Linked DNA regions of Homo sapiens. The protein of the gene in region 2 interacts with the protein of the main gene of each other region in a biochemical or structural test. Each region holds a gene or a part of one and is shown on either strand. Other genes may lie near its edges.

Region 1 (7,031 bases), on a different chromosome or scaffold from region 2:
ATAGTTTTGAACCAGGAACTGGTCTAGCCAGATGCTTGGGACTGCTCTTAGACTGGGCCCAGAGAAAGGGGATTAGTAGAAGCCTGGGAAGGGAACTGCTGACATAAACGAAATTCCATTTGTTCATTTGTTCATTCAACAAACCCGAGTGCCTGGTACAATACTGGTTGCTGATGCAATACTAGGATCCAACTATGAGTAAGGTGGATATGGCCGGGCGCGGTGGCTCACACCTACAATCCCAGCACTTTGGGAGGCCGAGGCGGGTGGATCACCTGAGGTCAGGAGTTCGAGACCAGCCCAGCCAACATGCTAAAACCTTGTCTCTACTAAAAATACAAAAATTAGCCGGGCGTGGTGGTGCGTGCCTGTAATCCCAGCTATTTGGGAGGCTGAGGCAGGAGAATCGCTTGAAGCTGGGGTGCAGAGGTTGCAGTGAGCAGAGATCGCACCACTGCACTCCAGCCTGGGGGACAAGAGCTAAACTCTGTCTCAAAAATAAATAAATAAATAAGGCAGATACATACACGCCCTATCCCTGTGCAGTTGTGATTAGGGACTAAGGGAGGAAGTGGGAAAGGGGAGGTCTCTAGGCAAGATCACAGGTATGGAGGGCGAGGATTTATGGACATCTCATCGTTCCCATCCAGGTCCTTGATTCTCAAGTGCAGCAGCTACCGGCAGGCACGGTGGTGGGCCCAAGAGATCACTGAGCTGGCACAGGGCCCAGGCAGAGACTTCCTACAGCTGCACCGGCATGACAGCTACGCCCCACCCCGGCCTGGGACCTTGGCCCGGTGGTGAGACACTGACATCCCTTCTGAGCTTGTCTGTGGCTTTCTTGACCCCCTGTGTAATCTCTGAGTCCTTCATCCTCTCTTTTCTCATCTGAACCCTCCTGACCTCAATGACCCGCCCCGTGACTTCTTTAATCTTCCTGACCTTTGACATCTTTAACCACATTGATCTCTCTGATTTCGCGCCGACCTTTCTGACCCCCAAACTTGGTCATCTCTTCTGACCCTTGACCTCTCTAACCTCCTATAACCTTTTAAACCCCTCTCTACAATACTGACCCTCTCTGTTCTCCATGATCTTCTCAAATCTCTCTGATTTAGTCCTTCATTTAATAAACATTTTCTTTTCTTTTTTTTTTTTTTTTTTTTTGAGAGAGAGTTTTGTTCTGTTGATCTCGGCTCACTGCAACCTCCGCCTCCCAGGTTCAAGCGATTCTTCTGCCTCAGCCTCCCGAGTAGCCGGGATTACAGGCGCCCACCACCACACCTGGCTAATTTTTGTATTTTTAGTAGAGACGGGGGTTTCACCATGTTGGCCAGGCTCTTCTCGAACTCCTGACCTCGGGTGATCCGCCCGCCTCGGCCTCCCGAAGTGCTGGGATTACAGGCGTGAGCCACCGTGCCCAGCCTTAATAAACATTTTTCTAAGCACCTAGCAGTGCTGGCAGTAACACACAGTCCTCTCTGGGTTAGGGAAGTAGGTGATCAAATCGTGAAACAATGTGAACTTGCCGTACTGGTGATAGGTAGAAGGTGACACGCACAGACAGGAAGTACCTGGCCCAGCAGGGATATCAGGACAGGTTTCCAGGAGGTGGTGACCCTCAGGTAGTTTTGCTTTAAATCAGAGACTGACACAATATTAATTTTGTTGGTTTTTGTTGGAGACAGTGTCTTGCTCTGTCACCAGGCGTGTAGTGCAGTAGTGTGATCATGGCTCACGGCAACTTCAACCTCCCAGGCTCAAATCATCCTCCTGCCTCAGCCTCCCAAGTAGCTGAGACTACAGACACATGCCACCACACCCGGCTAATTAAAAACATTTTTTTTTACAAAAAATTTTAAAAATTAGACGGGTGTGGTCTCGAACTCCTGGGCTCAAGGGATCATCCTGCCTCGGCCTCCCCAAAGTGCTGGATTGCAGGCATGAGCGACAGTGCCTGGCCTATATACTTTTTTTTTTTTAAGGCAGAGTTTCGCTCTTGTTGCCCAGGCTAGCGTGCAGTGGCACAATCTCAGCTCACTGCAACCTCAGCCTCCCAGGTTCAAGGGATTCTCCTGCCTCAGCCTCCCAAGTAGCTGGGATCACAGGTGCATGCCACCACACCCAGCTAATTTTTGTTTTGGTTTTTTTTTTTTTTTTTTGAGATGGAGTCTGTCTCTGTCACCAGGCTGGAGTGCAGTGGCAGGATCCCACCTCACTGCAACCTCTGACTCCCCGGTTCAAGTGATTCTTCTGCCTCAGCCTCCTGAGTAGCTAGGATTACAGGCATATGCCACCATGTCCAGCTAATTTTTGTATTTTTAGTAGAGCCAGGGTTTCACCATGTTGGCCAGGATGGTCTCGATCTCCTGACTTCGTGATCTGCCCACCTCGGCCTCCCAAAGTGCTGGGATTACAGGCTTGAGCCACTGCACCTGGCTATAAACTTCTAAAACAGCCAAAACCAATCCACAGTGATGGAAATCAGATCAGCAGTTGCCTGTGGCAGGGTATGGGGAAATGATTGCCTATAGTGGGGCACACGAGGGAACATTCCAGGACGATAAAAATGTCCTATATTTTGATAGGACTGGTGATTGCGTGGGAACATACACTTGCTGATCCTCATGGAACTATACAAGATAAAGAAAATGCAGAACAGTCCAGGCACAGAAGACAGAAATAGCTCAGGGTGTTTGGGAACCACCAGGACATATTGTTGTTACTGAGTGAGGAGGAGCAGTCAGAGGAGAAGCTGGGAGTCAGTGGCACCTGATCTCACAGGGTCCCATGTGCTAATATCACAGGCACACAGGGCAGTCATGGAAGGAAGTTTTGTTTGTTCGTTTGTTTTGTTTTGGTTTGGTTTGGTTTTTGAGATGGAGTCTGGCTCTGTCGCCCAAGCTGGAGTGCAGTGGCGCGATACCAGCTCACTGCAGTCTCTGCCCCCTGGGTTCAAGCGATTCTCCTGCCTCGGCCTCCTGAGTAGCTGGGATTACAGGCGTGCACCACTATGCTCAGCTGATTTTTGTATTTTTAGTAGAGATAGGATTTCACCATGTTGGCCAGGCTGGTCACGAACTCCTGACCTTAAGTGATCCACCCGCTTCGGCTTCCCAAAGGGCTGGGATTACAGGCATGAGCCACCTTGCCCAGCCTTCCTGCATATTTTCACATGTGCATGCACGTGTTACTTTTGTTTCAACATAAATGAGATCATGCAACCTCTTCTGTGACTTATTTTTTCACTTAATACCTGTGTGAGAGATTAGACACTTATATTATTTCCCATTTTTCACTCTTACAAACAATGTGATGAACACAACATTTGCCTAGGCATTGTATTAGATGTATTCCTAGACATGTAATTACCATGTATATTTAATGATATTAAAGGGTATATGCATTTAATATTTTGATACTGCTGACCAGTCGCTTTGGCTCATGCCTGTAATCCCAGCACTTTGGGAGGCCGAGGCGGGTAGATCATTGGGGTCAGGAGTTCAAGACCAACCTGGCCAACATGGCAAAAACCCGTCTCTACTAAAAATACAAAAATTAGCCAGGCGTGGTGGCGGGCGCCTGTAATTTCAGTTACTTGGGAGGCTGAGACAGGAAAATTGCTTGAACCCAAGAGGCGGAGGTTGCAGTGAGCCAAGATCATGCCATTGCACTCCAGCCTGGGTGACAGAGCGGGACACCATCTCCAAAAAGCTATATATATATTTTTTGATACTGCCAAATTGTCTCCTAAAAGTTATATTCCCATAGTCTATGAGAATACCCACTTCCCCAGCATATTGAATATTGATATTGAATGTTACCAGTGATTTGAATTATTACCAATCTAATGGATTTTTTAAATGTAATTTCATTTTAATTTCGTTGTTTACTAGTGAAACTGAACATTTGCCACGATTGGCCATTTTAATTTCTCTGTGAACTGTCAGTTCTTACTCTTTGCTCATTTTTCAGTTGGCTCATGTGACTTTTTCTTGTCGATTTATTGGTGTTCTTTATGTATGATGTATTAATCCTCCTGTTCTTTAGTTGATTAGGTTATTGTGTCTTTTTGTAATTTTTATTTGTATTTAGCGCATATGGGCAAACACTATTTTGATGTGTCTGATACCACTTGTGTTCTCTGATCATTTCTGATCTTTGACCTTGCTGTCACCTCTGACCCACGACTGTCCTCCGGTCTTCACTCTCCAGAGCTTTCTGGCTTCTGACTCCCCTGACCTCCTTGGCTTGGCCTCCCCCCAGGTTTGTGAATGGGGCAGGTTACTTTGCTGCTGTGGCAGATGCCATCCTTCGAGCTCAAGAGGAGATTTTCATCACAGACTGGTGGTGAGTGGGAAAAGGCCCCAACAACATGGGGCAGGATAGAGCCTGGGGCAGATCAGCATTAGGAGGAGAAGGGGGGTGCAGCTGGTGGTCTGGGGCTTCGTTTGCCCCTAATCCACTGCCCTGAATCCCAGGTTGAGTCCTGAGGTTTACCTGAAGCGTCCGGCCCATTCAGATGACTGGAGACTGGACATTATGCTCAAGAGGAAGGCGGTGAGGAGAGTGGTCAGGCCGCAGGGGGAGGGGGTTGCCTGTGGGTGGAGGTTGATTAGCAGGGCTGCAGTGTGGGAGAATTAGGCAGTCTGAGGCTTCAGGGGAGGGAAAAGTGTCCATCCTGGCCCAGCACCTGTCAGACATCACCTCCGCCCTCTCCCTCTGCCCTAAGGAGAACTGACAACTTCCTCTTCATGCTCCCTCCACCTGGCAGAGACTTCCCTCCCAGTATACATAATACTTTATTGTGTTATCTGGGGGTATACATGTCTATCTCTCTCACTGGACTAGTTAATATCACTGTTCCACTACAAGGCACAGTACCTGCCATGGAGGGGGCATGTGTGGTGTTGATGGACAGGAAGAAGGATGCATGGATGATGCAGGGTGGCTGGGCAGGTGGATGGATAGAGGACAGAAAGGGTGATGGATGGAAGGATATGAGTTGGAAAGGTGGAGGGCTAGGAGGGTAGGCAGGTAGATGGATGAATGATAGACGGTACATAAAGGGATGAGTAAATGCTTGGGAAGATGGATGGATGGATGATGAAGGGTGGGTGGATAGATGTGTGGATGGGTGAGTGGGTGAGCACACAGATGACATTTAGTCTAAGTCTGTGGCAAGCAGCAAAGCAGGGCATATGTGGCAGAGCCTCTAGGATCTCCAGACAAGCTGGAGGGACACACGTGGAAAAGGTTTGGGAGTGTGGAAAGGGGCTACTCTGGGAGAGGCACTAGGATCTGATTCCCCAACTCACCACCAGGAGGAGGGTGTCCGTGTGTCTATTCTGCTGTTTAAAGAAGTGGAATTGGCCTTGGGCATCAACAGTGGCTATAGCAAGAGGGCGCTGATGCTGCTGCACCCCAACATAAAGGTGACTCTCGGCCTCAGAGACCCTCCCACATGACAGCCCTTCTCCCCACACTGTCCCAGCCCCCAGCGCTCCCGCTCCCTGATGGTCTCATCTTTCCATCTTTCCTCTCTCCCTCCCAGTACCTCCTGTTTTCCTTCACCTAAACCCACCCTCATGAACCCTCCATGCCTGCTCCAGGTGATGCGTCACCCAGACCAAGTGACGTTGTGGGCCCATCATGAGAAGCTCCTGGTGGTGGACCAAGTGGTAGCATTCCTGGGGGGACTGGACCTTGCCTATGGCCGCTGGGATGACCTGCACTACCGACTGACTGACCTTGGAGACTCCTCTGAATCAGCTGCCTCCCAGGTAATCCCCCTGAGGCCTTCCTGAGCACCCCCAAACTCAGATAAGCTCAATCAACACCATTTCCCAGCTCCAGCCTTACCCCCTCAGTCATTCCAGGCCCTGCCAACCTCAGGGTTCCTCAGACTTTCTGGGACTCCAAGAACCCACTTTGAAAGTGCTGTAACTGGCCGGGAGCCATGGCTTATGCCTGTAATCCCAGCACTTTGGGAGGCCAAGGCGGGTGGATCACCTGAGGTCTGGAGTTCGAGACCAGCCTGACCGACATGGTGAAACCCTGTCTCTACTAAAAATGCAAAAAATTAGCTGGGCATGGTGGCAGTTGCCTGTCATTGAAGCTACTCGGGAGGCTGAGGCAGGAGAATCACTTGAACCCAGGAGGCGGAGGTTGCAGTGAGCCGAGATTGTGCCATTGTACTCCACCCTGGGCAACAGAGCGAGACTCTGTCTCAAAAAAAAAAAAAAAAGTGCTGTCACCCACCCAGTCCTTTCCCCATTTTCACTGACCATCACCCCATTCCTCTAAAAGTGTCAAAGGCAACTGGAGGGGAGGGCTGGGGAATCAGACCCTCTGTTTCATTCTTCCTCTCGGTCTCTCTCACTCTTTCAGTGCTCCTCTCTTTGGCCCTGGCTCTGTACAGCCCCATGACTTCCCCTTGCCCCTGGCTTGGGTGTGTTCCCCCTACAGCCTCCCACCCCGCGCCCAGACTCACCAGCCACCCCAGACCTCTCTCACAACCAATTCTTCTGGCTGGGCAAGGACTACAGCAATCTTATCACCAAGGACTGGGTGCAGCTGGACCGGCCTTTCGAAGGTGAAGCCTCCCACCCGCCAAAGCCCCAGAGAGCTGAGAGCAGGGTCAGAAGCTGGGGCTGGTACTGAGAGTGGGATGAGAGGGGTCAACGGTGGTACAGCCCTCCCTCTGGCAGGCTCTTTCTCCCTGCCCCAAGTGTCCCAAGGAGTCCAGCCCTGACATCTCCCCTGACTCTCCTGGGACCCCCCAGATTTCATTGACAGGGAGACGACCCCTCGGATGCCATGGCGGGACGTTGGGGTGGTCGTCCATGGCCTACCGGCCCGGGACCTTGCCCGGCACTTCATCCAGCGCTGGAACTTCACCAAGGTGTTCATTCCCTCCGATAGGGGCTGGAGGTAGGGAGGGAGCCAGGGCAGATTGGCACCTCCTGCTGACTCTGCCATCCCTCCACGTCAGACCACCAAGGCCAAGTACAAGACTCCCACATACCCCT
Region 2 (6,851 bases):
GTGGGGAGGGGCATGTGGTTTCCACTCCTCCCAGCACCCAAACCTGCTCTGGTTGGGTTCGTAGGGCAGAGAATCAAACAGTTCTCACCTTGGGTGGTAGTCTCGCCATTTGTCCCTGCCAGGGGGACCACGCCCTTGTCTACCTGTTGGGGTCAGGGTAACAACATTAAGACACAGGAAATGACCTCTAGCACCCTTTCCACTGTCGCCCCGGCTGGAGTACAGTGGTGGAATCTCAGCTCACTGAAGCCTCCACTTCCTGGACTCAAGTGATCCTCCCGCCTCAGCCTCCTAGGTAGCTGGGCGTGCCCCTCTTTCCTCTTCTTTAGCCCCAGTCTTCCCCCACATTTACTTAATCCCTTAAACTGCATCTCAGGGCTGGCAAATATTTTCACTTAGTTACAATTAAAATATTTAGTTACTTAAGCCGGGCATGGTGGCTCACGCCTGTAATCCCAGCACTTTGGGAGGCCGAGGTGGGCAGATCACGAGATCAGGAGATCGAGACCATCCTGGCTAACATGGTGAAACCCAGTGTCTACTAAAAATACAAAAAAAATTAGCCGGGTGGTGGCGGGCGCCTGTAGTCCCAGCTACTCGGGAGGCTGAGGCAGGAGAATGGCGTGAACCTGGGAGGCGGAACTTGCAGTGAGCCAAGAGATCGCACCACTGCACTCCAGCCTGGGAGACAGCGAGACTCCATCTCAAAAAAAAAAAAAAAAAAAATTTACTTAAAATGTTTAGTTACTCAAATACTTAGTTACAATTAAATTAAAATATTTTCACTTAGTTCACTTAGTAACAATCCTCTGAGACAGGATACACTGGGATGTTATTTGACAACAGAAATGTTGAGTGAATTGGGTGTCAGACTGGGGCTCTGCCACTTACTCTGAGCAAAACACTTCACTTCCCTGAGCTTCTGAGATTTTCATGTGTAAAGTGGGAATGATACTGTTCTCTCAGAATTGTGAGGATTAAAAATGTCGAGTAAATGCCCTAAGCCTGAAGCAGGCTCCATGCAAGTCTCTAGGCCACCAATCCAGCATTCATTCCCTGCCTCACTAACCTGGATTTCCTTCCTCCACTTCCATCTCAAACCTCACGTCCGGAGGCCCTCCCCTTACCTTGATGCCCACAACACCGCCCTTGGATTTGATAACTTGGGGGAAGGGACGCCCATCATCCGCCTTCTGGTAGAGTGTCTCATGGAAGAGGATGACACCCCCAATGCAGGGGTTCACGCGGTCGTCAGCTGTCAGCAGCAGCTGGCGGTAGAAGCGCCGGTTCTCCTCGGTGTTCTCGGTGCCAATGGACTGCAGCCGCTTGGCAATGCTCCCTGGGAGTGTCACATGGGAATTAGGGGATCAGCCTGCCACTCCCAACCCTGCACCCTCCACCCATTCTGTCTCCTGCCCGCACCAGTGGACTCATCTGCAGCCAGGATGCCCTTGCCAGGTGCCACGATGCGGTGAGCGATGTCAGACAGCTCCTTCTTCTGCTCCGGGGTCAGTGCTGGATATTGGTAGGGCATGGTGCTGGTAGTAGCAAGTTCCTGGATACAGGAAACAGAGGGGAAGGACTAGTTAGCTAGGGTTTCCCATCATCTCCCGATGACCAGGGCCCCTCTCCTGGAGGTCAGGGAAATGTTCCCTACCTCCCCTGCCCCACACCCAGCAGGCCCTGGGGCACTTCTGGTCCCCAGCTCTCTCTTACGCCCAACTTCCCTTTGCTAGGCCTGCCCCTGTACCTTTCCTAACTCTGTCTGGTGCTGGGTGTTGCCCAGCTGAGGGTGGAGTTGCCCACTGGCAACTGGGGGAAAGGAAAAGGCCATAGCCATGGACAGGTGGGTCATGTTGAAGCTGGACCCTTCTGGCTTGCGCCTTGCCATGGGGTCACCTTGCCTGAAAACAAAACCGAACCGGAGTATTTTAGAATGTAAAGATCGTGAATCAAGCAGAGGGCCCAACACCCTCGTGGGAAAGGGCCCAGATATGGGAAAGGTCTGTGCTTCAAGCCACACAGCAACCCCGGAGCCAGATCTGAGATTAGAACCCAGCTCTTCTGACTGCCACTGGGGTGTTCCTTCCAATCCCCTCAAGATCCCAGGGCTGGCCCGGGCTCCAAGGCTTCAAGGACATCCCAAGGTCAGGCTTTTCCCCACAAGGGAGGGGGCGGGTGGTAGGAAAGGGGCATTAGGAAAAATATAAGAGAGCAAGGAGAAGCCCAGGAAAGGGCGGCGGAACAAGCCCTAGCCCGAGGCGAGGAAAGCGGTAAGCTTTGCCATCGTCACTGTTCCTACGGGGCAAGAACGTGGAGGAGCAAGCGCCTTCCCCTGAAAAATGCTCCCGTCGCTTCGCATGGCTGCAGCTGTTCCGGGCTCAGAATCAAGGTCGCCCGATAAGGAGAGACAGGGAAAGTGTTAAGGGGGCATCAAGCACCGCGGAGGGGTTTCCCTCCTCGCGAAGGGCGCCCCGTTTCCCAGGACAGAAACCAAGCTCCCACTTGCGAGAACCCTGGGGCTGTACATGGGCCGGCCCCCACCCCTCACTGCCTCTTAGGATCCCCGCCAGGGCTAAGGGGCCCTAATCCTTTGCCACAGGGGTCCCTGCAAGAAAAGGGGGAGAATGGTCCTTCATCTCGTCCGGCTTCCTCCCCCGCCATGACTCAGCGCGCGCAGCCGCTGCATTGCGCAGTTAGAGGACCTCAGGCTGGAGGGGCCGGGGAGCCTGTGTGTGCCTGGTAGTGGGGAGACGCTGGCATGGGATGGGGGAGGCCTCCACGCGGACGCCCAACCCGCCACTGCCCCCAAGATCCCTCTCCACGGTCCCTGGTCCCCGCACGTGAAGAGGGGCGCTCACCTGGCACAGGAGAGGGGCGGGTGTGCAGGGTGCGGCGGCAGAGGGCGGCGGGCTGGCGAGTGGATTCAAGGAGAGAACGCGGGACTCGTCACCAGGACCCCTTCTGCGGCGCGTTCCGAGAGGAACGCAGCCGATTTAGCCTCGGAAGGGGCGGCGCAGGAGGCGGGCAGGCGGAAGGCGGCGCCCGGCCTTTTAAAGGCACCACTCCGCCCTCCGCCGAGCTTTTTCCTTTACGAGGAGCGGGCGGCGTCCAATGGCAGGCGACGGACTGGGCTACGGGCCGCCCCCGAGAGGCGCAGCCCAGAGGCCGCGCTAGGAAGGGGCGGGCGCCGAGAACACGATCCCTCCCCACCCCCCTCGGACGTGACTCGGACCACATCCCGCGGGTCGCTAGGGCCCTCCCTTCTGCTCCTTTCCCCCAGCCTGGCGCGCTCTGGGGCGCCGTGACTCAGCCAGAATGTTGGCAATGGGGGAGGGCGGAACGGGGAAGTGGAGGACGCGGATGGAAAAGTCGGAAACGAAGGAAGCTGAGTTTCGCCTCCCAGGCCCAGCGCGCGCGGCCCGGGGCCGCCCCAGCTTCCGGTCTTCGCGGCTGCAGCGCGTGTCACCATAGGGGCCACATCGCGCAGTCGTGCGTTAGCCTGCCTCGCCCGCGGGCTGAATCGGCGCGGAGCCGACACCCTGTCACTGGCCCAGGCGTAAGGGAGGCGGAGGAAAGGGCATCGAGAGGACACGCAGGGAGCGCGAGAAGGCGGCGGAACTAGCGGCGCGCGGAGGCGAGACCTCCCCATCCGAGTTCCAGGCTGGCAGGCCGGGCTGGGTCGCGCATGCGTGCGCGCTCTCCGCCGGGCCGCCGCAGCCAGGCTGGTAGTCCTCTGCGCCACAGAAAACCAGAATGCGCGGCTATGCACCGGCCGCTGCTCGGCCTCTGGCATGCGGGGTCACAGTTCCTGCCAAACGTCTTCCTTGAGCCTGACTTCCTTCTCCAAAAGAAAATCCGTCCCCGAACTGATCTGCCTCCCAGATGCTGAGCCCCCTGCTCCTATCGTCCAAATCTCCCCTCCTCACCTGGACCCCATCTGGACCCTGTTGGCCCAACCCCAACCCCATCCCCACCCCGGCCCGGTCCTGCAAGGGGCCCACCTGCGGCGAGGCCGAAGGAGCCGGCAGAGCCTGGTCAGCAGCGAGTGAGCTAGGGGTTCCCGGGCTGGTTATAAGGCAGCTCCTGCCCGCCCCACATGTGTCCCCGATCTTCTCTAATGACCCCTGCCCTTTTCCCGCCACGGATCCTCTGGCAGGGACCTATATTTAGGGAAACCTGAAGCCCCTGACATTCACACTATCGTGGGGCCCGGCATGGGGGAAGGGGGAGGAAGACTTGGGTCGGCCCTATTGATGGGGAGGGAGCCCCTGCCCACTCACCGGTGCTTCAGAGGAAATTCTTCCTTGGAAATCCAGACGGAGGCCCTTGGTTGTCAAGAGAAATAAATCTTTGGCCAGGGACCTGTGGGAAGGAAAGGGGTGAGGGGACTCGGATCACGTGGCCTCCCTGCCACCCTCCCTGGCTCCTTCTCTAATCTCCCTCCTCCCTTGACTCCCTGCGGTGATGGTGGCTGTTCTGATTCTCTGGAGCCCTGGTTTTTTTTAAGAAGGAGAGTAGATACTGGCACTACACTCACCTCCTAAAATAACGGAGAGTCCGTGGACGGAGTGTGGTTGAGGCACCCCTGCGTACCCGGTACTCAAGGGCCAGACTCCTCCTATAACACTTGTGTGTGGTGAGCAGCGCCACCCCCCTGCCCAACTTCAAATAGAATCGTTGACGTGTGGAGGGGAAGGGAAGCCAGGGCACCTGCCCGAGCACTAGCCCCTCTCTTTTCTGGCCCTCCAGAGGAGCTGCCGTCCAGCCGGCCAAGAGTCCTGCCCTGCAGGGAGCCAGGCCCTGCGCTGCCACTTCCAGTTCCCAGGCCTGGGTGCTCGGCAGGCCATCTGTGGTTCCAGTGGCGTGGGGAAAGGCTCTTCAGGGAGGAGGGCACATGGGCCCTGGGGGCTGGCCGCTCCCCAGAGGGCAGGGGCCCTGGGTCCTCATCGGAGCTTGATCTCGAAGCAGAGACAGTTGAGGCTCTGGCAGTCGGGGAGCTGGCACGTACAGGCACAGTCGCAGAGTGGGCAGCAGCGGGGGCAGCGAGGTGCCCAGTCCTGAGGGAGGAGAGAGAGGGTTGAGGGAGGTGGGATGGGGCCACGTCTGTTGCTCTCTAAGGGGAGAAGGGAACAGAGAGGCCTGGGAAATCTCACTTGCCCAGTGGAACAGAGGGTACTGTCCATCATTCCCAGGAACAGTGCAATTCCCTGTGCTGTTGAAAAATCAGCAGTGAGTCCTTGTTCTGAACAACTGAGTTCAGAAGCTAGAAGCAATGATTCAGGGTTCTCTCCTTCCCATTTTATGGGTGAGGAGACTGAGGACCAGAGAGCAACTGGCCCTGGGTCCCGTGCTAGAATTTGGGCCTCCCGGTGTCAAGCTCAAAAGATGGTTCTGCTACAGTCCCGGGGTCTGTGCAGTTGAGGCAGTAGACAGAGAAAGCACACACATTTTTCTGTCCATCATGAAAATGACTTGTGGGCTTTATGGACTTCTTCAGCATGAGACCAAAATAGAGGGTCTCATTCACCATTTTTGAGCATCTACTCTGTGCAACGAACAGACCGCATTCATGAATGATTTTAAAAATCTTTACAGGTATCTTTGAAAATGGCAATTTACCTATTTTTAATTTTTTTTTTTTTTTTGAGACAGGGTCTCACTCTGTTGCCCAGGGTGGAGTGCAATGGTGCGATCTTGGCTCACTGCAACCTCCACCTCCTGGGTTCAAGTAGTTCTGCCTCAGCCTTCTGAGTAGCTGAACTACAGGCGTGAGCCACCACACCCAGCTAATTTTTGTATTTGTAGTAGAGATGGGGGTTTCACCATGTTGGTCAGGCTGGTCTCGGAACTCCTGGCCTCAGATGATCCACCTGCCTCAGCCTCCCAAAGTGCTAAGATTAAAGGAGTGAGCAACTGTGCCCGGCCATTTTTTTTTTTTTTTTTCCGAGATGGAGTTTCACTCCTGTTGCCCAGGCTGGAGCACAATGGCGTGATCTCCACTCACTGCAACTTCCACCTCTGGATTCAAGCGGTTCTCCTGCCTCAGCCTCCCAAGTAGGTGGGATTACAGGCATGTGCCACCACACTTGGCTAATTTTGTATTTTTAGTAGAGACAGGGTTTCGCTATGTTGACCAGGCTGGTCTTGAATTCCTGACCTCAGGTATCTGCCCGCCTTGGCCTCCCAAAGTGCTGGGATTACAGGCATGAACCACCGTGCTCGGCTCATTTTTTGTACTTTTTTTTTTTTTTTTTTGAGACGGAGTCTCGCTCTGTTGCCAGGCTGGAGTGCCATGGCGCGGTCTCGGCTCACTGCAACCTCCGCCTCCTGGGTTCAAGCGATTCTCCTGCCTCAGCCTCCCAAGTAGCTGGGATTACAGGCACGTGCCACCACGCCTGGCTAATTCATTTTTTGTATTTTTTTGTAGAGACAGGGTTTCATCATGTTGCCCAGGCTAGTCTCAAACTCCTGGGCTAAACCCACCTTGGTCTCCCAAAGTGCTGGGATTACAGGCATGCGCCACTGCGCCCAATCAATTTTAATGTTTTCAAAAGAATTAGATCTATTTGTTTGTTTGTTTTTTCAAACGGAGTCTTGCTCTGTCACCCAGGCTGGAGTGCAATGGTGGGATCTCAGCTTGGGGCAACCTCTGCCTCCCGGGTTCAAGTGATTCTCCTGTCTCAGCCTCCTGAGTAGCTGGGATTACAGGCGCCCGCCACTACACCCAGCTAATTTTTGTATTTTTAGTAGAGACAGGGTTTCACCATGTTAGTCAGGCTGGTCTCGAACTCCTGACCTCAGGTGATCCGCCCACCTCGGCCTCCCAAAGTGCTGGGATTACAGGTGTG

The links. Proteins that work in one complex are often made in the same cells at the same time.
Region 1: the proteins of ALDOA (region 2) and PLD2 form a complex in vitro, tested with the Homo sapiens proteins (one study listed by BioGRID).

The regions. Positions count from the first base shown.
Region 1 is NC_000017.11:4,810,152-4,817,182, forward strand, and holds part of PLD2 (phospholipase D2), read left to right. Parts: intron 1-650; coding exon 651-800; intron 801-4,266; coding exon 4,267-4,350; intron 4,351-4,481; coding exon 4,482-4,560; intron 4,561-5,324; coding exon 5,325-5,435; intron 5,436-5,612; coding exon 5,613-5,783; intron 5,784-6,390; coding exon of another isoform or gene 6,391-6,429; exon of another isoform or gene 6,430-6,468; coding exon 6,469-6,595; intron 6,596-6,785; coding exon 6,786-6,904; intron 6,905-6,924; coding exon of another isoform or gene 6,925-6,994; coding exon 6,995-7,031.
Region 2 is NC_000016.10:30,061,938-30,068,788, reverse strand, and holds the start of ALDOA (fructose-bisphosphate aldolase A), read right to left. Parts: upstream 3,030-6,851; 5' UTR 2,862-3,029; intron 1,905-2,861; 5' UTR 1,892-1,904; coding exon 1,751-1,891; intron 1,556-1,750; coding exon 1,423-1,555; intron 1,340-1,422; coding exon 1,128-1,339; intron 144-1,127; coding exon 89-143; intron 1-88. Other genes in the region: uncharacterized protein LOC112694756, read right to left, coding at 4,947-5,060. UniProt on the Homo sapiens protein: Catalyzes the reversible conversion of beta-D-fructose 1,6-bisphosphate (FBP) into two triose phosphate and plays a key role in glycolysis and gluconeogenesis. In addition, may also function as scaffolding protein.